2 separate regions of the Homo sapiens genome follow, and region 1 is linked to region 2. The links come from fine-mapping of genetic effects on plasma protein levels. A gene starts in region 2. The other region holds a variant in brackets. All regions are shown on one strand. Distances are between the middles of the regions.

Region 1 (15,221 bases), 960 kb after region 2:
TACCAAGGTACCAATGAATAACTCTCTCTCTTTCTCTCTCTCTCTCTGTGTGTGTGTGTGTGTGTGTGTGTGTGTATTTGTGTGTGTGTATGTGTGGTACCTCCCGTGATATCTCACGTCCCATGATAGCTCAGGAAACTCTCCCTAGTGTCACTTTTAGGGTGAGATTAGAGGCTGAATAAAAAGCGGATCTGATTGCAACGGAAGAGTTGACCTTTGCTAGAGAATTTGACCCATTAAATATGGCTATTGTTTATCTCAGACTGACCCTTTCCAAAATTAAGTTTTCCTCCCAAATACTGAACATGTTGGGGTGTGGGTTTATTTTCCCTTCTTCACTAAGTTGTCTGAATTCTTTAGATCTCAGCTTAGGTAGACAGTCTCAACAAGAAGCTGACTTTAGAAAGTTTAAGGCCCCAAATATTTTGTCAACACAAATCCTTAAGCTACTTTATGGCATTAGAGCTAAAAGGAGAGCATCTGGTTTTAGTATCACAAATTAAACTACCTGCAGGGCCAGGCAGATAACATAAATGAGTTCTGTTCAGTCCATTCAGAAACTACTACTAATACGTCTACTAAGCACTGTTCCAATTCATCTTAACTTTATATTTTATTTTGTTGTATTTTGAGACAGAGTCTCCCTCTGTCACGCAAGGTGGAGTGTAGTGGTACAATCTTGGCTCACTGCAACCTCCGCCTCCAGGGTTCAAGCAGTTCTCCTGCCTCAGCCTCCCAAGTAGCTGAGACTACAGGCGCCCACCACCACGACTGGCTGATTTTTGTATTTTTAGTAGAGATGGAGTTTCACCATGTTGGCCAGGCTGGTCTTAAACTCCTGACCTCAGGTGATCCGCCTGCCTCAGCCTCCCAAAGTGCTGGGATTACAGGCATGAGCCACCATGCCTGGCCTCATCTTAACTGTATAATAACCATGAAGATAGGTACAGTTATTATTGCTAGTTTTACGGATGAAGAGCTGTGGCATAGAGTTTAGTCACTTGCCTTTCACACAGCTGGTATGTTGAAGACCTGGGATCCGAATACAGCAGTATGGATCCTGAGTTCTACATTTAGCCACTTGGTGCTTCTGCCTACCAGCCATAAATAAATAGAATAAGTGATAACAAAGTACTGCAGAGAAAAAGAGGCTAGAGTGAGGGGAATAGAGAAAGCCATGGAGTGGACAGGAGAGATGTATTATTTTATAGAAAGGCCAAGGAAAGCCACTTTTAAGTGGTGAGATTTCAGTTGGGCCTTGGCACCTCTCTGGGAATGTCCCAAGTACTGCAAAAAAGGAAGTGCAAAGGTCCAGAGGTAGGCATGTGACAATGTAGCAACATTGGAAGTGTTGGGACTATCACCAACTGCAGAGTTTGTGATTGTTCAGAATGAGACTTCTCAACTCCAACCAGTTGTTGGCAGACAGGAATATAGATCACTGGCTTAGTCTATTTTATTCTGGATCGCACTTTTGTAGAGTCTTACTCAGGAACAGAATACCTGAGACTGGGCAATTAATATGAACAGAAGTTTATTGACACCCAGTGCTGGGAGGGAGAGGGATAGAGAGCTGACTCGCCCTTTTACAACAGTGCTAATTCCATCTGTGAGGGTGAGCCTAATCACCTCATGGCCTAATTATCTCTTCAAGGTTCACCTGTTAATACAGTTAAAATGGCGAATTTCAACATGAGTTTTGGAGAGGACAAGCATCCAAAGCATAGCAACCAGTGTGGCCATATCTTCCAGTTTTTCAGTAGAACCCACAAATTTTTAATGTCTAATTTCTCGGTTTTTAAATGTTCATGTCTAACTCAAAAAAAATAACACTATGACAGCCAAACAAATAATATATGCAGGCTGGTTATGACCCATGGGCCACTAGTTTTTTGCTGTCTAACTCCCTTGGTTTGTGTTCCCAAAGACAGATGCCAGAGAGGGAAAGCAATTTGCCCAGAGCCCTACAGGTGGTAGCCAAGGTAGTCTTCGTTAAAAATCCAGGTTCTGAGGCCGGGCACGGTGGCTCACACCTGTAATCCCAGCACTTTGGGAGGCCGAGGTGGGTGGATCACCTGAGGTCAGGAGTTTGAGACCAGCCTGACCAACATGGTGAAACCCCGTCTCTGCTAAAAATATAAAATCAGCAGGGCATGGTGGCGCATGCCTGTAATGTTAGCTACTTGGGAGGCTGAGGCAGAAGAATTGCTTGAACCCGGGAGGCGGAGGTTGTAGTGAGCTGAGGTCACACCATCGCACTCTAGCCTGGGCAATAAGAGTGAAACTCCGTCTCAAAAAAAAAAAAAAAAAAAATCCAGGCTCTGGAGCCAGACTGCCTAGGTTTGAATGCAGGATCCGCCACTTACCAGTCATGAGACCGGGCAATTGCTTCACATCTCCACATCTCAAGTTCTCATCTTTGAAATCAGAATAATAACATTGCCTTCCTTAAGAGGTTATCCACATAAGCATTTAGAACAAGCTTGTACAGCCCACAGCCCACAGGCTACATGTGGCCCAAGATGGCTTTGAATGTGGCCCAACACAAATTCATAAACTTTCTTAAAACATCGTAAGATGTTTTTTGCAATTTTTTAAAAGTTCATCAGCTATCATTAGTGTTAGTGTATTTTATGTGTGGCCCAAGACAATTTTTCTTCTTCCAGTGTGGTCCAGGGAAGCCAAAAGATTGGACACCCCTGATTTAGAACACACAGTGTTCAGACATTAAATAGTGGAAGTAGTCTATAATATTTGCTATTATCATTATTCCCACAAATCCATTCTTTCCCCTTGTCTTCCACCCTAGATTATATCAAATGCAAGCACAGCCTTCAATCAGCTCAAGCAAGTGTTTGGTGTAAATAAAGGCTTTACAGGACTTTATTTGGGTTCTGCTGCAGTCCATAATACTGCAAGACTGATAAGCAGTGCTGATAAAAGTGCTGCTTTTTCCTGGAAGTGTTTCTTTTGGATTTATATTTGAAACAAGTTGAATCCTCTGAGCTCTTGCAAGGACCAGAGGTAAATCAAAGCAGCAATTTATTCCTCAAAGCCAGATGTGACCTTGCATCCCATCAGCCCATTCTCCTGGAGGGCCGTGATGAGAAGCTTTGACACTCCTGAATGTGCCTGAGGATTTATCTGTGCCTAATCATCAGCAAGGGGATGCTGGGTCTGATACAACTGATGCTGCGGAGAAGAAGGGGACACTTATGAATCTTTCTACCTTAAGGAAATTGTGTTTTCCACCTTGTGTTAGAGAGATATAAATTAAGGTGATGAAATGCCAGGGAACAGATGGGTTCTAAACCATTCTAAAGGAATTTTATGAATTTCACTTGTGTCTGGTTTTGTCTTGAGACACAAGAGTGACCTTATGTCTGTAGCCTCAGCAGATCAGAATTTATAAGGGATCTTAGGGAAGGATGAGCTAATCTCGTGCTTCTCAACGCATGATCCCTGGACCATCAGCACTGGCATTAGCTGGGAACTTGTCAGAAATGCAGATTTTCAGGTCCCATCCCAGAACTAATCACAAACTCCAGGAATGGGGCCCAGCAATTTGTGTTCTAACAAGTTCTCCAGGTGATTCTGTTCACGCTTGAATTTGAGAACTACGCGTCTAATTCATCTAATCATGATGCCTATCCCATATTAACATCTCCTGATGATCTTTTAGAAAACAACTACAGCATGGATCCCACCTCTGTGCAGTCTTAGGCAGGCTAGAGTGGAACTGGAGCGGGGTTACTGACCTCCTCACAGTCAACACTTTGAGCTAGAGAGTTCTTTGTTGCGGGGCTGCTCTGTGCATTGTAGACTGTTCAGCAGCATCCCTGGTCTCTCTATCCACTACAACAGGAGGACATGTTTTGACAAACATGTCTGCAGACATTGCCAGATACCTCCCTGTGAGGCAAAATTGCTCCCCTGCCCCTCCCACCCTGTTGAAAACCACTGAGCTACAGCATAAGTATTTTACAAGCACCCCAATGGTTCTAACATGCAGCCAGGACCAAAAACCACTGACCTCATCCAACCCTATCTTTTTGTCAGGGGAAACTACAGAGGATGAGCTTTAGTGGTTCTATAGGTAAAGGCACACTTTCCCAGACCTGTATATTTTGTTCCTGATTGGAGTAAATCCAATCACAGCAGGCAATCCCAGGTAAGTGAATGTGTTTTTAGGAGGCTAGTTGGCCACCTCATCAAATGAATCCACCTCCAAACTCAGAACCCATGGGGGGCCCAAGATGAAAACAGGACTGTTGCAAGCTGCAGATATGTCCAGGGTGACAATGGTTGCCTCTTGGCTACCTAGCCCCATAAAGTGGGGTTCCAGAGGAAAGGAATGGGAGGTTACTACTCTTGCCTTTCCGATATCTTCTCCCTGTGCTGAAATGTCCTGTCTCTAAGAGTCGTGATCATAACTTATTGTGCCTGGCTTGTGCTCTAACCTTTGCCATGTATGTTCTCTGATTATCTTTAAGCCTTCAGAGATACTATTTCTTACATGCTTCCTCTAAGCTAGGCCATCACCAGATTCAAACCTTGTGCAATCTTTTGTATTTTTATATTTTTGAGACAGTCTTGCTCTGTCACCCAGGCTGGAGTGCAGTGGCTTGATCTCGGCTCACTGCAACGTCTGCCTCCCGGGTGCAAGCAATTCTCCTGCCTCAGCCTCTGGAGTAGCTGGGATTACAGGTGTGTGCCATCATGTCTGGCTAATTTTTGTATTTTTTGTAGAGACAGGGTTTCGCCATGTTGGTCAGGCTGGTCTCAAACTCCTGGCCTCAAGTGAGTCACCCACCTTGGCCTCCCAAAGTGCTGACACTATAGGCATGGGCCACTGCACCCAGCCTCCTTGTGCAATCTTGAAAACACACTCCAGAAGACTGGGTATTATTGTCCCCCTTTTACAGATGACTGAAGTGAGGCTCTGAAAGGTGAAGTGGCCTGTGATCCCACAGTGGCCAAGTTTATTCTGATGCCAAAGCACCGATGTGTAACTGAGCACTGTACATCCTTAAGGAGCTACTCATATTTTCCACTTTCCCAAGAGTGTCAACTGAGCCTCCGAGAGGCTAGGCAGTAGGTAGAATCACGTTGCTGATGCCCCTGATATAATATCCTTTCAGCTCTTTCCTTGGAATAAAATGGTAGCTGCAGTCATGGCCCTCACTGCAAATGAGCCTTCCAAATGCAAGTGGGCAGCCAGACAACCTCTACATCCCTGCATTTTGCTCGTGCCCAGAGGTGAAAACAAATGAATGCTCCATATTTGGGACCTTTGTGAAGACGGCAGGTGACACCTGTTCTTTCTGTATTGGCAGGTCTTGTACAGATGGAACAGACAAAGCAGCACATCTGTCATTGAAACAAATAAAACATCGGTGGAGCTTTCTTTGCCTTTCGATGAAGATTATATAATAGAAATTAAGCCATTCAGCGACGGAGGAGATGGCAGCAGCAGTGAACAAATTCGAATTCCAAAGATATCAAGTGAGAATGCCTTTTTTTCTCCCTTTTCTCCTGCCTGTCTTATCTTATCAGCCTTCCAGATGAGTCAGGGCTTGAAAGACATTCAGCCTGCAAAAGCAGACTTAAAATAGAAATGGAGAACACTACCCCCCTTCTCCAGATGTTTGCTGGCCATAGGCAGTTTCATGCAAAAATCAGTTTGCCCGTGTTGACTGATCTACTCAGTTGCTAATCAAAAATCAGATTAAAGCAGACCCGAATTAGTCACTAAGGTTTTTCCGTGTCAACCTGTGTAGTTTGCATTGCATCTATTGTAGCCCCAGAATTACAGTTTAGAAAGTGAAAAGCATTGACTCAGTCAGAAGGAACAAGGACAAGCATTGTTAAGTATGCCGTAGCAGTTTTTCTCCAGTGAAACAGTGTATGCAGTTCAGTATCTTGGAAATATTTGGAATTTACTACTTATTTTCAATGGGTATATGCAACATGTGCATCAATGTGTATGTCTCTCTATAGTCAAGATTATCTTCACTTTCAAATGTTGTTGAATAGCATGGGAGAATAGCATATTCTTTTTGAGCAAATACATTCAATTCTGTTTTTACAAATACCATGTTTGTAAGTATCTTAAGAGCATGATTTTTTTGTTGTTGTGTGTGATCTCATTTATTTAAAGAAAAAAAACAAAATAGCCAAATCCGTGGAGACAGAAGTGAGGCTAGTGATTGGCAGTGGCTGGTCAGTGGGGAATGGGGGTTTAGGCACTGGGTCTTCATTTGGGGTGACACAAAAGTTATGGAGCTTGAGAGTGGTGCTGGTTGCACAACACTGGAGTATACTTAGTACCACTGATTTGTACATTTTAAATGAGTTAAAATGCTAATTTTGTTATGTGTATTTTACAGCAATAAAAAAAAGACTGTGGTTAGATATCTAAGTGTAGACTTTCACAGGCTTTCAGATTTCAGTCTGGAGATTAGGGGAGCAGTGAAGGCTGGAGGTATAAATTTTCAAGACATTGGTAAAAAGATGATATTTTAAATTATGGACAAAATCCTCACCACCATCCTGACTTTTAGCCATGTGACATCCCTCTGCTAAGGGGTGATATGCCAGTGTTTCTGGATGGAGTTTATATTTACTGCATCTTTTTTGCATACAAACACAAAAGGCATTTTTGTCTTAAAAGGGGGACAATTGGATTATACTTTATCAAACAAAGCCTCTAACTTCTATCGAAAGGGAGCTAGATTTTTGGTGAGATGTGGAAGTAAAATCTCCAGGCCACAAAAATACAAGATTGGGGCTTATCTCGCTTCATTAAAAATCTGACTTTATACTTCATACTTTCTTATCATTGCAGGGATTGACATTTTTAGATAGACTGATGATTCCTGGTTTTATTCATTACAAAAACATATATTAAGCAATTATATTGGTGTAATTATTAGATAACAAGGAAGTGACTGTGAACCAAACATGATCTGTTTCAAGAGATTTTTCATCATGTTGGTCAAAGAGACCTTACAAGATTGAAGAACCCCCGAATGACAGTTGATAGCTTCTTACTATGAAAAGTGTAAGACCCATAAGAAAATTTAAAAAAGGATTGAGGCTATTTTGTTTGCAGAAAAGGGGTAGATTTAGACAGACATGGGTTTGAACCCCAGTTTAGCCATTTACTAGCTGGGTGATCTTAGATAAGTTACTTTATTTCTCTGGGCGCAAATTACCGCCATCTGTTAAGCGAGGTAATAATAATACCTGGCCTTCATCCAGTTTTTGCAAGATTTAAGTGTCATATTCATCTGTGCCCAGCAGAAAGATAGAGTTCAAAAGGGAGCAGCAATTTTCATTTTGTTGAATCATCGACATAGCATGCTGTTTATCAGTATTGTTACTAGTAATATTGAAGTTTCTTCTCACATTAGATAGGAACCTCCTTACTTTACAAATGCTTTGACAGAGGTACAGGGCTGTCCTATACCCTACTCCCAGGTTTGTAGCTTGGTAGTCATAGAACTGATATTTAAAAGCCATTAAGACCTTGATCATCATTTCCAGTAGAATCCATGCAGTTCTGCTGTTTCAAAAAGCCCCGTGGCCCCTCTTCCCTTTGAAGCCGGGATGGGGCTGTTTTGAGTGAATTTGTTCTCTCTTTTCAGATGCCTACGCGAGAGGATCTGGGGCTTCCACTTCGAATGCATGTACGCTGTCAGCCATCAGTACAATAATGATTTCCCTCACAGCTAGGTCCAGTTTATGACAAAAGTTATCTGAAGGACTTGCTGTTTATAATATAAGCAACATTTAGCTAGTTGTTTTGAAGACACCCAGTACTAAGTAATATTGTTGTTCAAGTACATCTTATTACTGGAATAAAAATGTTTTTTGCTTCTTTA[G/C]GAATGGCATTATACAGTACTTCCTCAAAGCAAATCTAGCTTTGTCTGAAGTTTCTTTGGAAACTCTGCAATGCACTGAAGACATCTGTAATATGATGTTACCAAAGCAGTTTACATATGTCCTTATATGCATATTTTTTATTATATATTTAGTGTTTTATAGAATTTTTTAAAGTTAACATATAATGTAGATATTAATTTTTTCCTCGGCTGTAAAATGCTATGGGCAACACAATCATGCAATTATAATTTGAAAATATTTCCTTTAAAGACAGAGTTTGAAACTCATCTTGGTAAATAAATTGCAAATTACTCGTACAGTTTTACAAGGATCTCATGGCAGAACAGCGGAAGACTTGGTCCGTAACTCAAGGCTGTTGTATGCAAACTACTCTTCTAGTGGTTAATGCACTTGACATGTACAGTATGTTTCCCATGCCGTTGTGATTTTGACATGTACAGTATGTTTTCATGCCGTTGTGAATTTTGTTGTTCAACCCAACTTGAGATGGTTTCAGGAATGGCTGCAATCTCAAAAGCTCAATGTACTGCCCAAGAGGCACCTTGTGCAATATTCCCATCCCTGAATTTAGCATTGTACAGGAAGATTTTCTTTTCACTCAACTGAGTTAGCATTGTCTTTGTGGTAGCATTATCTTAGACATTAAATTTGAAGTAACATATATCCTGTAGTAACATAGACCCAAAGTTACTATAGTCAACCAAGTCTTTCAAAGGATAAAAGATCATTTTATTATCTTTAACTGTATCTATTTTGAATGTAAATTTAAAAAAAGTAATTCTCTGTCAATGGATTCGTAATTTCTTTACAAAATTTCTTATATATAATATGTGTATCTCTGTAATAATAGAGCCCTTCTTTTGAATCAAAATTACATATGGACTTTGGAAGATTGCTCCTATTTCAACAAATAGTTGCTGCAAGAATTTTTAATATGACTCTATAAAAGCTCTTTAGTACAATTGTATGGTTTCTTGATGATTCTGTTTTGCAATAGGTAGCCTAGTTGCTTTATATGCTTTACCTTCTAGGTCTTAAAATCACACATTGGAAAATGACAATATCAACAAAACTGTATTCTTATGAAAAGAACTATTTGTTACAATGAGAAAGGTTTTGTGAGTAAACCCTACTGGACAGTGACATAAAAGGCAATGGAATTTTCTATAAACATTTTCTCATGTAAACATGCTGCCACCTTTTCTTCTTTCTCAGAGAACTCAAATTTGCTATAGTTTGTCATTTTTGCTTACAAATAATATAACTTTTCAACCTTCTAGTTATATTTATCCAATAAAGTCATAATCGGGATTCCATTTGTGTAAAAACTAGGGTGGTAACCGGAAAAAAATATTGTCAGTATTTCAAGCTGTGTTCCTTTCTTAGTTTGATATGGTTACTTCTATGTTGAAATAAAATTTAAAATCACATGCAAAAAAAAAATCAGCAAAATAATAAAATGAACGAAAAAAAATGACACCCAGGGAGTTCCCAACCCCAGTGTAAATGATATTTACCAGTGATCTAGCATATGTAATCTTTTTTAAAGGTATTGTTAATAAATATTCTGTCATTTGTAAAGATACTTGTCTTTCGGGAGCATTTTTCCTGCCTGCCTGTCAGGGAATTTGTTAGCTTACCTTTGTGCTAGTTATAATTTGGGATCATAGAGGGACTCAAAAGTCTCTACCCAAATCTAGATGACCCAGAGCTTTTCCTTTGGAATTGACAACCCTGAAGCACCATTTCAAATCCTCTTTGGAAGTAGAGAGGGTCCTAATCCACAAGTAAATGTCCTGAAGATGAGACTTGAATATTTTCTCTTGATTAGCTAAGTCTTTTGTATATTTACTGTAAGTATATCTGTTGTTTCCCTCACCCCCCATTGCTAAAAGGGTAAGTTCTAAGCTTGAGCATTTAAGGCTCTTTTTTTTTTGAGACGGAGTCTCACTCTTGTCACCCAGGCTGGAGTGCAATGTTGCGATCTCGGCTCACTGCAACCTCCGCCTCCCAGGTTCAAGCAATTCTCCTGCCTCAGCCTCCCGAGGCGCCCACCACTACACCGGACTAATTTTTGGATTTTTAGTAGAGACGAGATTTCACCATGTTAGTCAGGCTGGTCTCAAACACCTGACCTCAGGTGATCTGCCCGCCTCGGCCTCCCACAGTGCTGGGATTACAGGCTTGAGCCACCGCACCCGGCCCTTAAGGCCCTTTTTAATCCAAAACGATTTAACTGTGTATCCAGCCACAGTAAGCCCTCCCTGACCCCTGAACACTGCTTGCTTTTGGTCTCACCTCTGTGCCTTTGGTCTTATGGCTGCCCCTTCCTGAAATGCCTTCTCCACCCTTCTCTCCCATTCAGATCCCTGCTGTCCTAGGGTAGCTCCAGCCCCAGTTTGTCTGCAAAGACTTCCCATGCTTCAGTCCTTTATGACATTCTCGCTTGGAAGTAGTTGCATCCCCTATCAATGCTGCTCATTTAGTAATTAATCAGATACTACTTTTGGAAATCTCTTGTACTGTTATCTTGCATTTTAATTTAACTCCTGTATTGTTACTTACTTTTTCTTGTATGTATGGCTTGTCTTCCCAACTAGATTGTAAGCTCCTTGAGGGCAGGGACTTTGGTCTTATCTTCCATGTACTCTCCATAGTGCCTAGCACAGTGCCTTGCAATAAATACTCACTGATTAATTGAATGAAGGGGTCTTTGAAGTAGCATTTTGCATCAGTTGCCTGCCTGTGTGCCACAGCAAACCAACCAGGGAAGACTGTGTCATTACTTTCGTTATGTGCTGAAAAGCGTTAAAAGGCCTGGCTTCTAACTTTGTACCTGGAAGAAGTCTTTGACCAATTGGCTTCATCATCGGGTAAATGAGGTCCTGGATTAGTTGAGTCTAACTGAATTGAAGATGTTTTAGAAAGTGCCCCATGAGCACCTCCACCCAAACTTGTCTCATTTGTTGGCTTTCATGGTTGCCTCAGGTAGGGTCCACTGGCTGTAAGCAAAGAAACGACCCTGGGTAACTTGAGCAAACAAAAAGTAAGGAATTAGAATGACACAGGTTACATCATATGAGCCAAGGAAACACTGAAGGACCAACTCTTGAGGAGAATAAGAACCAGGCCACTCTGTGGGTCCAGACAATGGGAACTTTGGAAAGTCTTTTTGGGGTGCTATTGTGGGGATGAATCAGCTTTGTTTCCAATTTTGACGCCATTATGCTCAATATTCAGATTCCTGGGAAAGTGATCAGTTCCATTTGAGTTCCACAGCCAGAGTACCTTGTACTCACAGGGGAGGGATAGTTAAAGGAAAACTAAGATGCTGTTTTCCAAAGGTAAGAGAAGAAATGCTGGGTTGGTATAAGTAACAGATTTTCTAGGCTTAGCCAGCCAAGGGGACTTTCTTAGGCCCTTAGCCCAAGTAATACACTCGAGTGGAATGACTATATTGCTGCTTGAGATTTTTTTCTGAAGGAGGACCACTAGGAAAATTTGCTTTGCTTGTTTAACCTTTCAAAGTGCTTACTCTTGCCCTCCTTTTTGTGTGTGTAGTCCACTTGTGATTTAACTGTATGAAAGGAAATTCTATTGTGCCAGATATTTGGATTCTCTCAGTGTACCTACTTTCTATGGAGCCCACACATGCTACATACAAAGCAGCACCTTTCCATGGGCACAGAAGACATGGATGATAAGCTTCATTTCTCAGGTAAGCTCTGAATTCTTCCAGCCTGTGAGGTAGAAGGTGCATAGACTTTGATATTAAGAAAGAATGATTGTGTTATTCCCACCATCAAAATTGTGGTTGTTTATATCCAGGAGGCAATGTTAAATCCTGATTAACCTTTACCCAGTCTCTTCCACCACCTTGCCTCACTACAAATATGCGCAAAGAATGTTGAGTTATAAAAAGTATACAAATAGCACATAATTAGCAACAAAAATGTCATGCAGTTTTTAATCTAATGTAATCAACCAACAGGTGATTTTTGTTCACTACATTGGATTATCGATGCTACTGTTCTCCTCCGTTAACACTTATAATCAAGAAGTGACTGTTATTTTCCTGTTGTTACAATTTACAAAATGTTCTGGCTAAAAACGTTATGTGGCCAACCATAGTGCTTTGAAAGGCAAGCCTTTAAAATCAAGGACTTATATTCAATCTGTGGACATACCCCAGATTTTTCCATTACAAAATGCCAGACACTGAGGCCTTACAAAGGCAGCCTAATACAAAGACTAAGGACGTGGATCCTGGAGTTTGACTGCCTGGGGTGCATTGTAATGATTGGCTACTTATTAGGGAGGATAAAGTTTGTAAAGCTCTCCAAACAGTGATGATTTTACCGTCTGTTATTGTTCTTTTTCTCCAGGGACTTTACTAGACCCACAGATGTAGGATGTGGATGCTTCTTATCACCAAAATGAGTGGAACTCAGCTGACACATCCATTATCACCTTTTATTTAAACATGATCACTTCTTAATATAAATTTTAATGTTCGATAATTTTAATCATACAATCAACTAATTCAAACTTAGGCAGTAGGGTTCCCATTCAGATGCCAGGTTTTGCACAAAGCCTCCCTCAGCTTCCCCATCTGAAATTGACCTTGCATTTCTCTGACCTCCAGGGGATGGGGTCTGTACCCACTCATGTCAGTCATCCCTTCGTACCTTATATTTAAATCATTTTTGTTGGTGTCTTCCGCCTTATAGTAGACACACGGCACCTCAGCGTTGGCATCTGGGTGTGGTTCCTCATTGTGCTCCCAGGCACAAGGCCTGTGTCACCTCCATCTCAGACCTAGAGGGAGGAGAATATCTGGCCCCGTTTCCTGTGATTTCCTCAGGCCCCCTGCCAGAGTGTGATTAGTAAATGCAAGTCAGGCTGCCCATTCTGCAAAGAGGCCCCGTTTCCCCTTGTGCTAAATGGGCCATGCGGATTAAATGTTCCAGCTCTGCAACTCACCTGCAAACTACAATACTCAACAGAGATCACAGTTTAAACAAAATTGGCCTCTATCCTTTATCACAAGCAGTTATGGGCCATGGTAGATTAGCAGAGCTCTAGTGATATAGATCACATAGAGAGAAAGCTTTTTTTAAAAAAGGTCAACCATATGATCGATCTGAAAGTCTGGAAATTGGAAGGCTGAGCTACTTAAATATAGATGCAATTACATGTGATATCCCCATTCTCTGTAAACTGGGTTTTTGCCACATATCCTTATTGTTAGGAATAACACGAACTATACCAGGAAATATATATGTCCTAGGACTTTAACAAATAGTAATATCTTTAATTTGTTTTTCTAGTTTTCAAAGTGCTTTTCACACTAATAAGGGGAGGACATAGGTTTTTATTCCTTTTTTATTTATGAAATGGAAGCAAAGAGGTTATATAAGAAGCCCAAAGTAACATAGACAATTAGAAAGTCAGGGCTGGGCATGGTGGCTCACACCTGTAATCCCAGCACTTTGGGAGACTGAGGTGGGGGGATCACAAGGTCAAGAGTTCGAGACCAGCCTGGCCAACATGGTGAAACCCCATTCCTACTAAAAATACAAAAATTAGCTGGGCATGGTGGCACGTGCTTGTAGTCCCAGTTACCCAGGAGGCTGAGGCAGGAGGATTGCTTGAACCTGGGAGGCAGAGGTTGTAGTGAGCTGAGATTGCCCTACTGCACTCTAGCCTGGGCAAGAGAGTGAGACTCTGTCTCAAACAAAAGAAAAAAAAAAAAAGAAGGACTAGAATTTAGAACATAGACTCATTAGTGCATTTCATACACCTAGAAATAAGTACTTAGAGAAAGGACAGGATGGAGTAAGGAACTAGACTCTGAAGTTCAACTAGAGAACATTCTAGGACAAGTAGGTAGGCCAGAGGAAATGGTGAGGTAGAAGGGTGAGATGTCTGAGGTTCAGATGCTGGAGGTGGAGAAGTTCTGAGTGCCGGCCAGGCCCAGGGCACAGCCATCTGGAGGAATGGGATAGGATAGGTGCCTGGAGAGGGTTTTAGTTATTCAGCAAGGGACTACTGGCAGCCCTCTCTGTACCAGGCACTATTCTGGGCATAGAAGAATGATGTGGCATTCAGATGTGTGTGAGGAAGCCAAGGCACCAGTAACAGTATTTTGTCACAATACAGAGAAATGCAATGATAATAATAATAGTAAACAGTGATTATGCTTATAATATGTGCCAGACTCAGTGCAAATCAACCTACCGATTTAGTTACCATTTATTATTCCTATTTTATACACAGAGGATTGAGGTTGACAGGTTCACATTTGTCCCTGATCACACAGTTGATCAGAGAGACCAGGAATTGAAATGCTGGTGGCTTGGGTTTAGGGCCCTACTCCAAAACATTAGATGTCTCTATCTGTAAATAGATGATACATAAACAATAAGGTAGGTAGATAGATAAATAGACAGATAGATACGGTTCCCATATAGCAACAAGAAGGAAAGGCAGTCATGAGCTTCAGTCTGCTCTAAAGTGGCTCAGCTTCTCTGCTTCTCTTTCCTTGACTGCAAATGTTGTTTTTTGCGTGTTCGTTGTCCTTGACTTCAGGTGTCTTAGAGCTGTTTCTTTAAACTCCGGCTACCCTTCAAGATCAGGATTACCCAATAAAATAGGAGAGGAGCTATTAAACTTAGATTTCAGATAAAAAAAAAATTATGCTTCCTTAGTATAAGTATGCCCCATGTGATATTTATTTGAAATTCAACTTTAACTGAGCCTCTTATTTTTATTTGCTAAATCTGGCAACCTGACACCAGGAGGTCTTCATTACTCTCATTGAAGTAATTAATTTGTAATTCAAAATTTCAGGGTCTTGCGAATGTGTTGTCAGATCTCTGAAGGTCAATGGCTCTGAGGGCGAGACATGAAGTTTGCTGTTTTGAGTTCTGTTTCGTTTGCTGAACTCTCCTTCCCACTTTTCCTTGGATGGTGTGAGGATGGGATGTGTGTGTGTCCAGAGAGACAGGGCTGGTGGGTGAAGTTCCTCTTAGAGCTGGCAGAAAAGAGGTTTTGTTTTTTTTTTGTTTGTTTTTTGAGACGGAATTTTGCTCTTGTTGCCCAGGATAGAGTGCAATGGCGCAATCTCGGCTCACTGCAACCTCCGCCTCCCGGGTTCAAGTGATTCTCCTGCCTCAGCGTCCTGAGTAGCTGGGATTACAAGCATGCGCCGCCACGCCTGGCTAATTTTGTATTTTTAGTAGAGACGGGTTTCTCCATGTTGGTCAGGCTGGTCTCGAACCCCTGATCTCAGGTGATCCACCCACCTTGGC
Region 2 (15,221 bases):
TGAAGGTTTTCTTTTCTTTTTTCTGCTGAATCTGACATCTGGTTTCTCTCACAGGTAGTTTCTGTTGCCTGCTTTTATTTTTCTCTTGTATGAGTCACACTTTCCTGTTTCTTTGCGTGTCTCATAATTTGTTGTTGAAAACTTAATTTTAGATAATATATTGTTACAACTCTGGAGGGCCCCCTTCTGCCTCACATGTTTATTGTAGTTTGCATGTTTAGTTGTATAGTCACTTGCTGGGCTGTTAGAATAGGGTCTATTTCCCTCACAGTATGAAGACTCTGATTTTGCTCCTCAGAGGGTGCAGGCTGACATGTGCACAGTCAGCCTCCAATACAGTGCTTTTAGAAGGGCTGTCTTCCAGGCTCTTTTTCCATGATCATACCCAGCTGTTAAGCTCTACTAATTCCCAACTGATTGATCTATTGTTTATACAATGCCCTGGAGCATAAATTGCTCCCTAGACTGAAAACAATTCAATTAAACTTGGGTTCCTTTATGGGGTAATTTTGAGATGAATGTCTGAGGTTTGCTTGGACCCAAAGAAGGCTCTTCTTAGCTCTCTTTTTTTTCTCTCATAAGCTTACTGGTTTGTGGTTTAACTTAAATCCCTCATGAAGGTACCATCCTCTTCCTAATTGCTTTCTACCAAAACCTCCTTTGATTTTGAGATCCTTAAAATTGAACTTCTCTACACTCCGTTGAAAGTCAAGTCAGTTTTTTTGTTTATTTTTTTGTTTTCTTATGGCCTATCTCTTCCCCTGGACCAAATCTCTGAGCCATGGCTTTGGAATTAGTTGTGGGGACAGTCATATGCTTCTCTCTGATGACAACCTAGATTTAGAAGGAATCTTGGTGGGGGCAGCAGCCTCTGGTATTCTAGGCGTACCTCTTGACACAGAACCTTCTCCTTACAAATTAGCTATGTTTAGGGCAATTGGCTAGAAAGAATCTCCCTGTTCTATGAATGAGGGCTGAGTGAAAGAAGGTAGCCTTGACCTCCTGGCCACACTCTCCTGATATTTAGCCTCTGCAACAGGTAATTGTGGGGAGGACAGGAAATGCTAAAGGCATGTCCTTCCCAGAAAGATGCCACATTCCCTTTACTGGGTTCTGGGGTTGCCTGGGGAGTGAAGGGTACTACTATGTTATTGGCTGTGCTCACCTGGAGTGGAGTTTCTGCCGTGCTGAGCTGGCAGGGAGAAGGTTGTGGAACAAATGCCACAGACTCTCACCGTTCTTGATGAGTTTTACTAGATTTTCTTGAATAAATATTTCTTCATTGATATATATGTCCTTAAAACCACTTCCAGAGTTTTTAAATGTGTGTGTGTTTAAATAATTTTCACCTCCACTTAGCTTGTTTTCCTTGGGAGTGGGTCCACTGGACTCCTTACATTTTGATTCCATATGTCAGAACCCAAGAATATACTTTAAATATATGACACCAAAGATAGAAATGTAAAGAAAAACTACTAAATTGATTATATAAAAATGTAAAAAATCTTTCTCTCTCTCTCTCTTTCTTTCTTCTTTTCTCTTGAGATGGAGTCTCGCTCTGTTGTCCAGGCTGGAGTGCAATGGCATGATCTCGGCTCACTGCAACCTCCACCTCCCGGGTTCAAGAGATTCTCCTGTCTCAGCTTCCTGAGTAGCTGGGATTACAGGTGCCTACCACCGCACCCAGCTAATTTTTGTATATTTAGTAGAGAAGGGGGTTTCGCCATGTTGGCCAGGCTGGTTTCAAACTCCTGACCTCAGGTGATCCACCTGCCTCAGCCTCCCAAAGTGCTGGGAGTACAGATTTCTAAAGTTAAAAGGCAAATAGAAAGAAATATTTTCAACGGATAAAAGTTTACTACCTTAAATATTCTGAAATCTTTGACTAATCTCTAGGATAAAGATGAAAACTCAAATAAATGAATAAGGAACACAGAGGCAATTCATAAAATGCATATAACACATAAACATAAAAAAATCTTTAACCTCACTAGAATTTTTTAAAAAAGGAAAACAAGAAACACTTTATGTCCACAAATTAGAAAATATATAAATAAACTTACAATACTCAGCAAAGAACTGAAAAAATACACTATGATGAGAGAGTAAATTGACACAAACTTTGGCGAAATGAATAAATATCATATTAAAAACATATATAACCTTTCCATGTTGCATTTAATTTATTTAAAGACGGTATATATAGTGTGATGTATGGCTGATGGCTGTGTGCGTGCATGTGTTTTCGTGTGTATTGTTTTTAACCTGTAAGGGTACTGCTGTTAACATTTGCAGAGCCCTAATCAGGAATACATATTGCAGAGGGCAGGTAGCATCTGTAAACGTCTTATCTGAAACTCTCTTGAGATTCAATTAACAGCATTTACTATCAACAATACAAGCCTTGCTAATTGGCACAATTGAACATAGCAATGATTATTATCACTGGTGAATGATTATTTTCTCTGGTGAAAAGATTGGTGTTTAAGATATGGGTCTGGCTAGAAATACTGCACAGTGAGTTTTGCCCTTGCATAGCACAGAAGGAAAATCTGGTGAGCCGAATAACTTATAATCTTAGGAATGATGTTTTGTGATTTTGATTCCGATCAGTTCTGTGTTGAGCAGTTTTCAGAGGATTTTTTTGCCTGACTCCAAGTAAGACTTTAATTGAATCCTGCCCTTGCAATATTGTCGCATTTGCCTCTGGTGAATCTTTGATTCAAAAGGCTATTGGAGAAACTGTAAGGACAGAGGAGTTGGGACTTTATTGAGCTTACAGTTTGAATAGCTGCTTTTTAATGTCTGCTATGTTGTTATGTGTGCAGAATTTAGCCTTGAATTATCTCTTCTTACAATTTACTACATTATTTTGAGGGTGATGAGGATGAGGCCTAGAGCCCTCATTACCTCTAATTGTTGATCATGGATATCTACCAGAAAGAATCTAATAATTATGAATGAGGAAAGTCACAAGACTTTTTGATATGGTTTGACTCCCTGTCTGCACCCATAATTCTCATGTGTTGCGGGAGCTGCCCAGTGGGAGACAATCGAATCACGGAGGCAGGTCTTTCCCATGCTGTTCTTGTGATAGTGAATGTGTCTCACCAGATCTGATGGTTTTGAAAACCAGAGTTTCTCTGCACAAGCTCTCTCCTGTCTTTGCTGCCCTCCATGTAAGATGTGACTTGCTCCTCCTTGCCTTCCGCCATGCTTGTGAGGCTTCCCAAGCCACGTGGAACTGTGAGTCCAATTAAACCTCTTTCTTTTGTAAATTACCCAGTCTCTGGTATGTCTTTATTAGAAGTGTGAAAATGGACTAATACCCTTTCTGACCTAGTAGATCAAGTTCTGGGAATTTATTCTGAGTTAATAATTTAAAATGTGTGTAAAATTTAACATCAGTGTATTTATCAATGAGTTATTTATCATAGCAGAACACAAACAACTTGAATGCTCAACAATAGAGAACTGATTATCTGTAGTATATTCTGAAATGGAATATTAAGCAGCTTTTAAAAGTGAGGGGATATATAACTATTGAATGATAGAGAAAAGTTCAGGACACATTGAATATGAAGAAACTGATATTAAAAACATGAACAAAATGAAAATATTTAAGAAAATATGTAATTACAGTTATGTGAATACAATGTAAATTGTTTAGGATAAGATGAAAAGATAAATGATTTGATGAATTCTGTATAAATTGAATGTCTCTAAATTGAATCGCATACCATATGGGCGGATGTGGCCGTTTAAAGGAGACATTTGGTACAGTTGACCCTCATTATTCACAGATAACATATTTGTGAATTTGCCCACTTACTGAAATTTACTTATAACTCCAAAGTCAATACTTAAGGCACTTGAGTAGACACTTGTAGACGCACAGAGGTATTTGTAGATGCACAGAGAATAAAAATTGTAGTTGCCCAATGCACACATTCCCAGCTTAGATCAAACAAAGTGATGCTCTGTGTTCTTGTTTCAGCTCTCATATTCTAAAAAAGTCTCCTTTTTGCAGTATATTTAGTGCATGTTTCTCAAATTTTGGGTTTTTCTGTTGGTGATTTTGCTGCTTAAAATGGCCTCGAGCACAGTGCTGGAGTGCTGTCTAGCATTCCTAAGCAAAAGAAAGCTGTGATGTGCCTCACAGAGAAAATACATGTGTTAGATAAGTTTTGTTCAGGCAAGAATTACAGTGCTGCAGGCCATGAGTTCTATGTTAATGAATCAACAGTATATATTAAAGAAGGTATCTTTATCAGTTGATGAAAATCTTGTTACCAGAGGCTGTCAGGAACATAACCCTTTATTGTCTCCAGTGTTTGCAGTGACTTTATAGAACATAATTACTGAGGACATCAGAAATCAACTATAAATACTTTTGCAACTAATAGACCTTTGGAACAATTATTTTTGGATTTTGTATAAAGAATCCAAAAAAATCTGGAAAACGTGTGGCTAAGAAAACAGTTGATTGGTCCCTAATTCCACCTTATTATGTTTAAATTCAGTGGGTGTCTCACAGCCACGTTTATAAAGGAATCTTGGCTGGGGTGTCAGGTTTCTAGTTTACTTTGACTCTATCTGTCAGTCTGTGTCCAACCTTCATGGCAATTAACTGTGCTTTTGTGTGCTAATTATCATTATCCCAGTATGGGCCCATTATTAGTCCAATGTCCTTAGTTTAAAGCTTAAGTGTCAATCAGTCACCTAAAACAATTGCATAGAAGGAAGCTTTGCAAGGCTGGTTTGAAAGTCCTTAGCTGAGTTCTACTTTATTATACTCCAGTTCGAAACTGAACACAAAGCTCTTCTTGATACAATTGTTTATTTAAATACTGATTTATCTACTTAATTAAAGCAAACTTGAGTTTATATTTTAAAATCAGGGATGGGATAATTGCTACTTTATGCTTGAAGATCTATTCAGGTAGCTATACATTAAACAAGTAAAACCGTAATTATAAAACCTGCACATTTTTATCTGATTGAGTCGCTCCTGCCATTGAACGACCTTATTCAAGTCATTTAGAACAAAGAAAGGTGGCATATATGAGTTTTTTAAAATCCCACTGGATGCCAGGAGTAAGGAGAAAATAGCATCAAATCAGATGTGGTCAGAAAAGAGGTATTTCTTTTCCTGTGATGCTTTTCCTCTTTCCTCCTCTTACAGTAAATCCCCACTTATCAAATCTTCAGATGTGTAGAGAAGGAATAAGGCAGGGGTAATGGGGGAGTGGGACAGAGAGATGCCCTTTCTGGAGTTTGCACAACGGTTGCATGCTGAGTAAAACCTGATGATGTATTCCATTCATGTCTCCAAAAAGTCAAAAGCGGTTTCAGCGTTGATTTCCCTTAAGAGTTATCAGTCCTCATTCAATTGGTTTAATGAGTGTAAGAGGTGACCTTGTGTCTATGTAGATACTCCCATATTAAAAGACCTGGATGTAAAACTTCACATATGTGTAAATAGTTATTTTGGAGGGTGTTGTGAGGGTTATTGCAGCTCTCTGCTCAGCTGCTACTCAGGCTAAACGGGCAGGAGAAATTTTCCACTGTGTTAGAATGATGATTATTTGCAAATTACATGAGCACCAGTAATTCATTCATGCAATGATACAGAGCTGGGTCTCAGTGCAGTGGTATTGAACTTGCTGCTGGGGGCGTTAATTGATTCGTTTGGAACATTCCCCTCCAGAGAATCCCAATCACAGGTCCCCTGATCAAGAAACGGACACGCAGTCGGGGTCCTGGATATGTAGAGACACACGTGTGAGGCTGTTGTCATCAAAATAAACCATTTCTGTCCCCTGACAGGGGTTGAGTCTATTAGGAACACTCCCCAATCCTGGGAGCTTCCGCAAGAGGCTTTCTATCTTGGCAGAGGTGGCAGCTGAGCATCGCTTCTTTGCTGCAGGATGGAAAAAAGGGACTGGATTATTGGCTGCATTTTAAACTAGCTGCTGTTCTAGAGAAAATGTTGGGGAGGGACTGAACAAGCTTAGCACTGGATCAGTGTGGGGGTGTGTTGGTGAAAAGAAAAAATGCCTCCTCCTAACTTAACGTTTAACTGATATCCCCTCAACACGACCCAAATCTGTCTCTCCAGATACACAATGTCTGTTTTCCTAACTACATGGTGAACTGTGGAGCAAGTCTTGGTCATGTTTAGTTTGTTTCCCAGAATCTACTAGAAGACAATGCCTAGCATATAGCAGGCACAGAATAAGGGCCAAAGGGGAGAATGGAAACAAAATATGTACATTTGAAATTTAGAAACACAGTTAAGGGACTTTGCCTGAAATTGTCATAAAACTTTGAAAATTGCTTCAATGTATAGTCCCAGTGGGAGAATGTGACAGCATATTTTATTCTTTGTTCTTTTCTGAAATTCTGTGTCCAGTCTAAAACACGACATTTCCCTTTAATGTGTTAGGAGTATGCATGACTACACAGGAATATTTTCTGGAGAACTTCTGGTGAAGCATATTTTGATAAACAGTCTTACTAAAAGTTATATATATGTACTTTTAATTGACTAGTTGCAGAGAAATAATCAATGTAAAAAAAAATCATACATAGTACAGGTAGTAAAAGTCACAGTTCCGGCAGAAGCACAAAAGCCTTCAAAGTGAGTGGGAACCTGGGAACCATTGATCCTCAGTGGCTGTTTACCATGGAAAACACCTGCATCACCAACATTCCAGTTTTGCAAAAGTACCTCTATTACAGACACATACCAGGCAAGGAGGGAGGAAAAAGCCTGAAAATTTCTCTCCAAGTTTAAGTAATCAGGAAACTTTGGTGGGGAGGTTGGGGTGGGGTGGGGGCGGGGGGGTAACTTCTTTATTTAGCATTAATCTCAGCAATCATGAAAGTCATGGAATTTCAAGTGATGAAAAATTTGACCACAACAATACCTATCACTAGCCTGGTTTTGCCCACTTCTCGAACAGGAATTATAAAGATAATAATTAATTCTAAAAAGCAGAAGACAAAACAAACAAACCAAACCAACACTGAATGAACTAATAAGGCTGCTGCATATATATGTTGGAGTTGGATGTTTATTTGCTTACTGCAGTAGTTTAAAAATAGTTTTCCAGTTAACATCTTTTCCACATAGTGGAGATGTCAGGGTAGGTTTACATGATTGCGTAAATGGTCAGAAGTTGTTTATGTAGCTCTGAACTGCTGAGAGATGAGCAGGAAGACCTGGGTTCAGCAAAACCCTTGGGGCTTTTTCCCAGAGAGAGAAACAGAGGCTCCTCTCTGGGTTGCTGGAATGCTTTCCAGACGAATTCGACTGGGTTGGCTTTTCTCTGCCTGTCAAAGTCACTTTGCACAGTGCTGGTGAGGGGCTGGGGCATTGCTGCCAATCTCTACGGTTACCCCGAGGTGTGGAGTTGCGGCGAAGGGAGCCACTTCTGCAAGGAAACAGTAGATTCATAATGTAGAATGACCGTGGCAACGTCGTTCAAAGCACATTCTTTCGAATAACAAGGCTTTCGACATGCCCCACCCCCGCGCACAACACACCACAAATTGATCCTTGTACCTAATTTACAGCAACTGTTCCCTCTGACCTCCCCCCGCCCCCGCCCCACATTCCAACCTGAAAGCACTTTGCGTGGATGAGACTTCAGGTGTGTAACGCAGCCTGTCCAGCCAGTGTCCTCCGCCTAAGGACAGGCAGGTAAAAACCTACCAAAGCCCCCTCTTCTGGCCTAAGTTCAATGCCACCCGCCCACCCACATTCCCCGGTTCAGCAATTTTCAGCCCAGACGCAGAAGCATCTGTTTCCCTGGCCAGGGCGCCTTAACGATCCCCCGAATTCCGCGTCTCCCGGAGGCCAGAGGTTTGGGTACCCAGGAAGGTCGCGCCTCCTCGTGCCCCGATACTCGGGTTGTAAAGGGAGGAGACATCGCCTCGGCGCATCCCTGGCCGCTGAACAACGCAACCCCTACGTCCCCGCACGGGAATCCGGCTGATAATCTCCTCTTGCCTGAGAATCGGGCCAGGCGCCCTTTACTAATTTCGCGCGCTGGGGACCTGGGGCTGCCGCCTCTCGGCCGCGCGGGGCAGGTGCTGCGTCCCCAGCGCTCGCCTCCTCCGGCCGCGCACTGAGCATGCGCGGGCTCCGGGCCTCCGGCGCGTCTCCCCGTCCCCGCTCGTCTCCCGCCCGTTCCCACCCGCCCGCGCCTCTCCCCTTCCCCGAGCGTCTCCCCCGCCCCGCGGCTAAGGAGCCGGCAGCCCGAACTCCGGCGCGCCAGGTTTTTCCAGCCGCCGCGAGCGCCGGGAGGGAGGGCAGCGCCGCGCCAGACGGAGCCCGGGGTTCGACGCCAGGATTGGCTGCAAGTAGGGAGCTTTCGCCGCCGCCCCGGGCCCCTCGGACTGTGCCGGCGCCGCACCCGAGGCTCTCGCCAGCCCGGCGCCCCGGTGCTGAGGTAAGTGAGGCGGCAGCTGTGCGGGTCCGGCTCCTGCGTGGGCGCGCGATGCCCCGGGGACGCGGTCGCGGGTGTGGGGGGGAAAGGGCAGGGTCCGCGCGGGTTGCCCGAAGGACAGGGGCGCTTCCCGGGGCTCTGACTCCCGCGGGGCCGGGCAGCGTCTGCGGGGCCGTCCAGCTCAGAGCCCGGAAGCCCTGCAGGGTCGGGGAGCGGGAGCTGAACGCCTGAGCGCGGAGGACTCAGGGCCCCGACGACGCCACCGTCACCCCACAGCGACCCTTCTTCTCCTTCTCAGCCGGAAAATAAGTTTGTTGCGCTGCGAGGCAGCCACAAAACAAGGAACCGAGAGCCCGGAATGCTGCGGGAAGCCTTCAAGTCAGCTCCTCCGACTGGTTCGGGCTACTGCCCCCTCTCCGTGCGCCCTGGCCTCTGGCGCCGGGTTCCCGGCGGGGCTTTTCTTCTGACAGCCCAGTCACAGCCCGCAGCAGAGGGACGCGAACCTGGGGAGTGGAGGGACCTGGGACTAAAGGAACAGGAGCCCGTAGCCGTGGTGGAAGGAGCCGCGTGGAGACGGAGGCTGATGTCTGTGGCGCCCGCTGGGTGCCGGGCTGGCTGCTGAGCGCTGAGGCTGCGGCGGCGAGCGACAGGCCAGGTGCCTGCTCTTAGGGAAGGTACCTGGCTTCCCCAGTCTCTGCCGCGGGAGCCTGTTGGGTGGCATTCGTTTCCAGCAACTTCTGGGGGGTTTCCAGTTTCTTTCGAGAGGCAAGACAACCGCCCCGTCCCCTCCCCGGGCCCAGACGGCGGCGAACTGTGCGCCGGGCGCCCCACAGACCCCAATCCACTCACTCTCCTTCTGGAACGCGGGGCTCAAAATCTTCGTGCATTTTCTCTCTTGTGCTTCGTGTATATGTTTTACTATTTATGAAGGGTGTGGAGGTGAGGGTAGGAGGACGTGGGCTCCTGAATCCCTCTGAACCAGCCAGAGAGTCGGCTGCATGGAAACATTTCGCAGCGAAGCTCCTGCGAGGAGGCGGCTTCGCGCGTCGGGAAGATCAGGCGGTTGCTTGCTGGCCAGGGTCTGCAGATTCGGTGCGAAGAAGCTGGCGGAGGTTGTGTAGGGCGAGTCAGTGTGACTGAGCACCCTGGGTGTGTGGTCTGCGTGGAGGAGAGTGGGCCGGATCTTGAGGTGTGTTGGAGGTTTATTTGTAAGAGGAGTTCCTGAAAGGAATGTCGTGGAACTTTTTCTAGTTTTCCTGCTGGAATCAACATAGGGGCGGGCACATGTTTGTCAGAATAACAGTGGCATTTAACTGCATGGGAAGCTCTTTCAATTTTCTGTAGTGGGAGCTGGATAGTTCAAGGAGTAACTCCACATAACTGAGTCGTTTGGATACCCACACAAGATAATTTGGAACGCGCTTGTATTTTTTTGTTTTTTGAGATTTCTGGTTTATGTCCTTTAGAGAGTGGGGTAGGAGCGTAAAGACTGTATAGGTTGCCTATGAGCAGGTCCATACAATAGCGTTCCCAAGTCTGCCTAATAGCAAGTTTGTTCTCTCTTTCTCTCTCTCTACCCAAGTGGGTGAAAAAGAACAGTGTGTCATGAAGACAGGCACCTGGAGGTGATTTGGGTGGCATTCATGAGAAAATTCACGTTACCCGTAAGTTTATTCTTGCTATTTTTATCTTGATTTCTTTAAAGATTTTGTGGGAATATCTGCAGTGGGTCGCAGGAGTAGGTAAGATTGCTAAGGATCAAAAACAAGTTTCATGAGAATATTATTTTTGCTACCTTATAAAATAGCTATTGATTTGTTTGTTGAAGCTGGTTTCAACTGCTCTGTCTTGTTGAGGAGAGATGATGCTGATAAACGTCATTATTTTTCCATCTGAACCCTGGGAGGTAGCTGGCAAGGATGGAAAAACTGACCTTTTCAATTAAAGACTAAGAGTCTAAGAGAAGTGACTTGGATAAGGGTGCATGTCAGAGCCACATGTAAGTTTCAACAGAGGTAGATTTTCCTATTTGCAGTTTTTTAAACAACACTTTTCAGTTTCTTTGAGTTGTAAAACTTTTCAAGTCAATTGGGAGTCAATGCAGTACCTTTTTCCATGGTCATTTCATATTGGCAGGTAATTAAGAGTGATTAGAGAACAAACCTTTCAAATGATGTTGGATTTTTTATCATTCACTTATTTTACCTACTTCTCTCTCCTTTTTGTTCAAAAGTAGGTCTTCTGATTTCTTTTCCGATCTAAGCACTAAATCTTTTGGCTGCAGTTTTTCTTCTGAAATGTATACAGGGCATCCGTTCCTTCAATTTAGGTCTTAAAAAAATAAAGCTGCTCAGCAGAAAATTCCCATGCATGGTACTGACTTTTCTACAAGTTTGTCTGATCATGATTTTAACTTGTTGTTTCTTCTTTGTTATATTTGAGGACAGACATAATATGCATTAGCTTCAATCTCTCTTATCTTAAAAATTAATATTTTGTAAAAACTTGCTTTTATATTATTTTAGTTGAATAAGTCTATTTCATATGATAGGCAGGGGGAAGTCTCTACACACTGATTTTTTTTGTTCCTTTTTGTTCATTTTTCCCTGTAATGCTATGTTTTAAGCCTAGTGAAGGAGGCAAGGAGGCAGGATTTACTGCCTAGATTTATTGATCTTCATTATTATTATTATTTACTATCAGAAGAAATCTGACAACATATCAATAAAATTTATTTATAAACTGAAGACATGCTGTTATATGATACACTACTTATAAAACACACAAAGAAACAAAAAAGATGAATAAAGCAAAAATTATGAAATAGAAGGTCTCATGTTGCTGTTATGTATCCCGGTGGATCATTTTGTACAGCCCCTGGGGTGTGTAGCACACTTTAAAGATCACTGCTGGTTTGATATTTTTAAAATCTTTCTCTCCTTATCTCTGCTCTGCTGTTCATCATCTCTGATACTCTAGCCAGTTGTAAAACTGCTACACTTCTATATCTTCTGTAACAAATAGATTAAGCACACTTGTTTTCCTCTCATGGACTCATATGTGGATAGAATGAGGTGTAAAGGATGAATGTGTTTTGGAGATGTCATCTTAGATCTCCCAAAGTAGACATACAGGTGAATTTTAAAAAATGGAGTTTTAGTTTAAAGACTAAGTACCAATGGTCAGGAAGTGAAGAATCCAAGGAGTAAATGAGGGAGGATTGGAAGGACACTTTCCACATTGCAGTGTTGTGTGGAGGCTGGAAAGTTCATAAACCTTGAAGCAGATTAACCTGAATCTAAGTCTGGCACCATCATTTATTACATTTACAGTCCTGGGCAATGTAGTTCCTTAATTTCTGTGAGCCTTAGTTTCTTTAGGTATAAAATTGGGATAACATCTATTTCACGGCATCACGATAGGGATTAAACATGAGAGCATGAGTCAACATGGGTCAAGAGCTTGGCTCTTTTAGATTGGCTCTTTAGCAGATATAACAGATCCAAAAGGGATACTGCCTCAGATGTGAAATATATTTATTTCTCGGTTGTGTGAAGTCCCAGAATGGGTGATCATGGCAGTACTCCTTCAAAGTGTGATTCAGAGACCCAGCCTTCATCTGTTCTGTGCCCTTGCCGTCTTCAGCAGGGTCACTGTGCTTACTTGCATCAAGCCATTGGAAAGAGGAAGACTTGGGAGGATGTTAATTGCCCAGAACTGGAATGAGTGCATATTACTTTTCCTTGCATTGTGCTGGCCAGAACCCAGTTCTTTGTGGATGTACGTTACTATTAAGGAGGCTGGGAAATATAGTCTAGAAATGTTATCCAGGAAGTAGAAGAAATTGTTGGGGGAACAACTAGCATTCTCTGATGTTTTATTACTATATGTGATATTTCTTCCATGTTCAATAACTGTTACTTCCTTTTCTTCTCCTAACCCTTGCTTTTTTTTTTTTCTGGTAGAAAAACTGGAATGGATACAATAAATAATAATAGAAGCAGTTAATACATACATAATGCTTACTATTATTGAGATACTTTTTAAAGCACATTGCCCTACTTTGCCCTTCTAATATTATCTCTATTGTACAGATGAGGAAAACTAGGCATAGAGAAATTAAGTTATTTGTTCATCATAGCTAGTAAGTAGCAGAGCTGGGATCTGAACCAGGTTCTCTCACTCCAGAATTGATTTTTTAACAGCTTTTTTTTTTTTTGCTTTTGCCTCAATACTTTTCTTATTTAAGCCACTGGACCGCTTTTTACTTTTGCCTATATATAAAAAAGTTGCCAAGAGAATTTTTTAAAATACTAAAGTAGAAAAAAAGGATATAATCCAAAACATACTGGAATGGAATTAGATATGATACAGCTTTATCTTGAATACCTACCAGGATCAGGAGCAGATATTTAAAGTAACTCCCCCCACTTACACACCCTTCACCACTACAACTGCTCTTTCATTTGTGATAAACACATTTTCAGGGTCTGTGCCTTGAATTATAACCTTCCTCTGAAGATTCTATTGTGGGAGTCTTGCGCTACCACTTTCATGCTTCAGTATGTGAGGATAAATTCCTCTTCACTTCTCAGCAGAAACAAATATCTTCCCTGGCAGGTTTTTCAGCTAAAATAGCCTCTCCTAACTTTTGATCAAAGGTATTGCTCTTTATCAATATCCCCATCCTCCAAGAAAGGAAACCCTCTTCTTTTCCTATGAGCTTTGCAAAATTATTTTTTATTTATCTATTTATTTATCTTTATTTTCTATATGACTAAGGGGACTGTATATATATCCCAGGTACCGTCTAAAAGAAAATGGTCCCTCTTGTTCTCATCCTGTTGTCCCATTTCCATTAGAGAATCTGCCTCATCTTATGTTTCCTATGTATTTGTCTTTCATAAAAATGCCTGTTAGAGTTTTGGTTCCCAGTGGCTGCAGTGGAAATGTGTAGTGGTCAATAGTAAGCGTATACTTTTTGCTAAGATAGTTATTGTTTCAACATTAAAGAGTGATTTTTTTCCTCTTGTTCAGTATGTATTTGTTGCATCTTCACAATTAGGTAATGATATGTATCTTCTTACCATGTAGGTAGGCATAAATACTGTATACCTACCAGTCATTTCTTTCCCAGAAGCCCCTGTTCATTTCCTCTTTACTTTCCCTGAGCCTCACATCCTGAGAATTTTGCTTTTTTTTCTGAACTCCTCTTTCTTCCAATTTTTTCCACTTCTGTGCCATTTATGTCTACGTGTGTGTGTGTGTGTGTGTGTGTGTGCGTTTCAAGTCCCTTCTTATGATTTAATGGGGTTGGAGGGCTGGAGAGGTTTTCATGTGCTTACTGTCATGTTTTCAGCCAAATTCCACAGGGCCTTGTAACAGGCTAACATGAGCAGATAAGCTCTTAATTTTCAGTGACTTATTTTAACTTTTTACTTCTTGCTCATGTGTGGTAGTTCAGTACTCATAGAATAGATCCTGACTGAGTGGCTGTCCATGGGGTCATTCAGGGAATCAGGTTCCTTAGAGTTTTATGGCTTTGTTCATCTTTAAGTACCTAGAGTCCTCATCATTCAGTCAAGATACAGAGTGTGAGGAGATAAATAATCCAGAGAAGTCTTATTGGAGGTTGTTGTAGGCACAGCCTGGAAGTGGTTGTCATGACTTCTGCCCACATTCCTCTGGGGTGGACCTCAGTCACTTCGACATCCTTTGCTGCAAGGGAAGCTGAGAAGTGGTGTCTAGCTGAGTGCCTGGGGGAGAAGGGTGAAAGGAAAACAGGTTTGGTAAATAACTAGCCAGTCTTTGTCACAGGTTTCCAATGAAAGCATGTGAGAAAATCAGCTAATTCTCTAGGTATGGGGAAAAGAGAGCATGGATTTTGGTTATTTGCCAAATAAATGCCCATTGCCTTGCTTCCTTTTAATTTTGACCTCTATTACTATCCCATTCTTAGTGCATATGGTCTGGGTGGGATTCCGTTTCCCATTTAAGGATTGGAGCATGGGAACCAGGTCTTGTCGGGAAGAGCATTGACTTTTCCTGTCCACAGTAATTGCTTCTAGAACAGAACAGGCATGGACCCAGTGAGAACCACTGCAGTGAGATGCTTTGCTTTTTCTCAGTGGCTCTAGTTGGGCTCCATGTATGCCTTTGAACTAATTCCTGTAGATAAGGAGATTAGAACCAGGGAGCATGTGGGCCTGCCACTGCTGCAGCTGTCTTAACACCAAAAAGAGAACCTAGACCTGCTGAGGTCACCACATACTACTTGAGAATGAAGCCAACAGAACAGTAGCAAGGGGCATGATGGAGCAAAACCAGCTCCTCTTGCATCATGTGAGCCCGTTAATCTGGCTATGCCTAAAGTGAGTTAACCTGGTATATTAGTCTATTCTCACACTGCTAGAAAGAACTGCCTGAGACTGGGTAATTTGTAAAGGAAAGAGGTTCAATTCACTCAGTTCCGCATGGCCTCAGGAAATTTACAACCATGGCAGAAGGCACGAGAGAAGCAAAGGCAGGTCTTACATGGCGGCAGGCAAGAGACAGTGAAGGAGGAAGAGCCCCTTATAAAACCATCAGATCTCATGAGAACTCACAATCATGAGACCAGCATGGGGGAAACTGCTTCCACAATGCAATCACCTCCTACCAGGTCCCACCCTTGACACATGCAAATTATGGGGATTACCTTTCAATTGATGAGATTTGCGTGGAGACACAGAGCCAAACCATATCATTCTGCCCCTGGCCCCTCCC

What was found. PIP is the posterior inclusion probability: the model's chance that the variant is causal. Sun 2018 read protein levels with aptamers (SomaScan).
Region 1: its variant is fine-mapped to the plasma level of the CNTN4 protein (Sun 2018, PIP 0.95).

Annotation. Positions count from the first base shown.
Region 1 is chr3:3,048,471-3,063,691 of GRCh38, forward strand. CNTN4 (contactin 4) reads left to right here. Exons shown (of 25, transcript NM_175607.3): 24 at 5,337-5,505; 25 at 7,650-9,489. The coding sequence ends at 7,750. CNTN4-AS1 (CNTN4 antisense RNA 1) reads right to left here and starts at 12,675. Exons shown (of 4, transcript NR_046554.1): 1 at 12,597-12,675. The variant G/C (reference allele first, on the strand shown) is at 7,887.
Region 2 is chr3:2,090,520-2,105,740 of GRCh38, forward strand. It overlaps CNTN4 (contactin 4), which reads left to right and starts at 8,347. Exons shown (of 25, transcript NM_175607.3): 1 at 8,347-8,459; 2 at 10,039-10,120. It overlaps LOC124909338 (a long non-coding RNA gene), which reads right to left and starts at 7,736. Exons shown (of 2, transcript XR_007095785.1): 1 at 7,628-7,736; 2 at 7,062-7,439. RefSeq lists an enhancer at 4,303-4,910.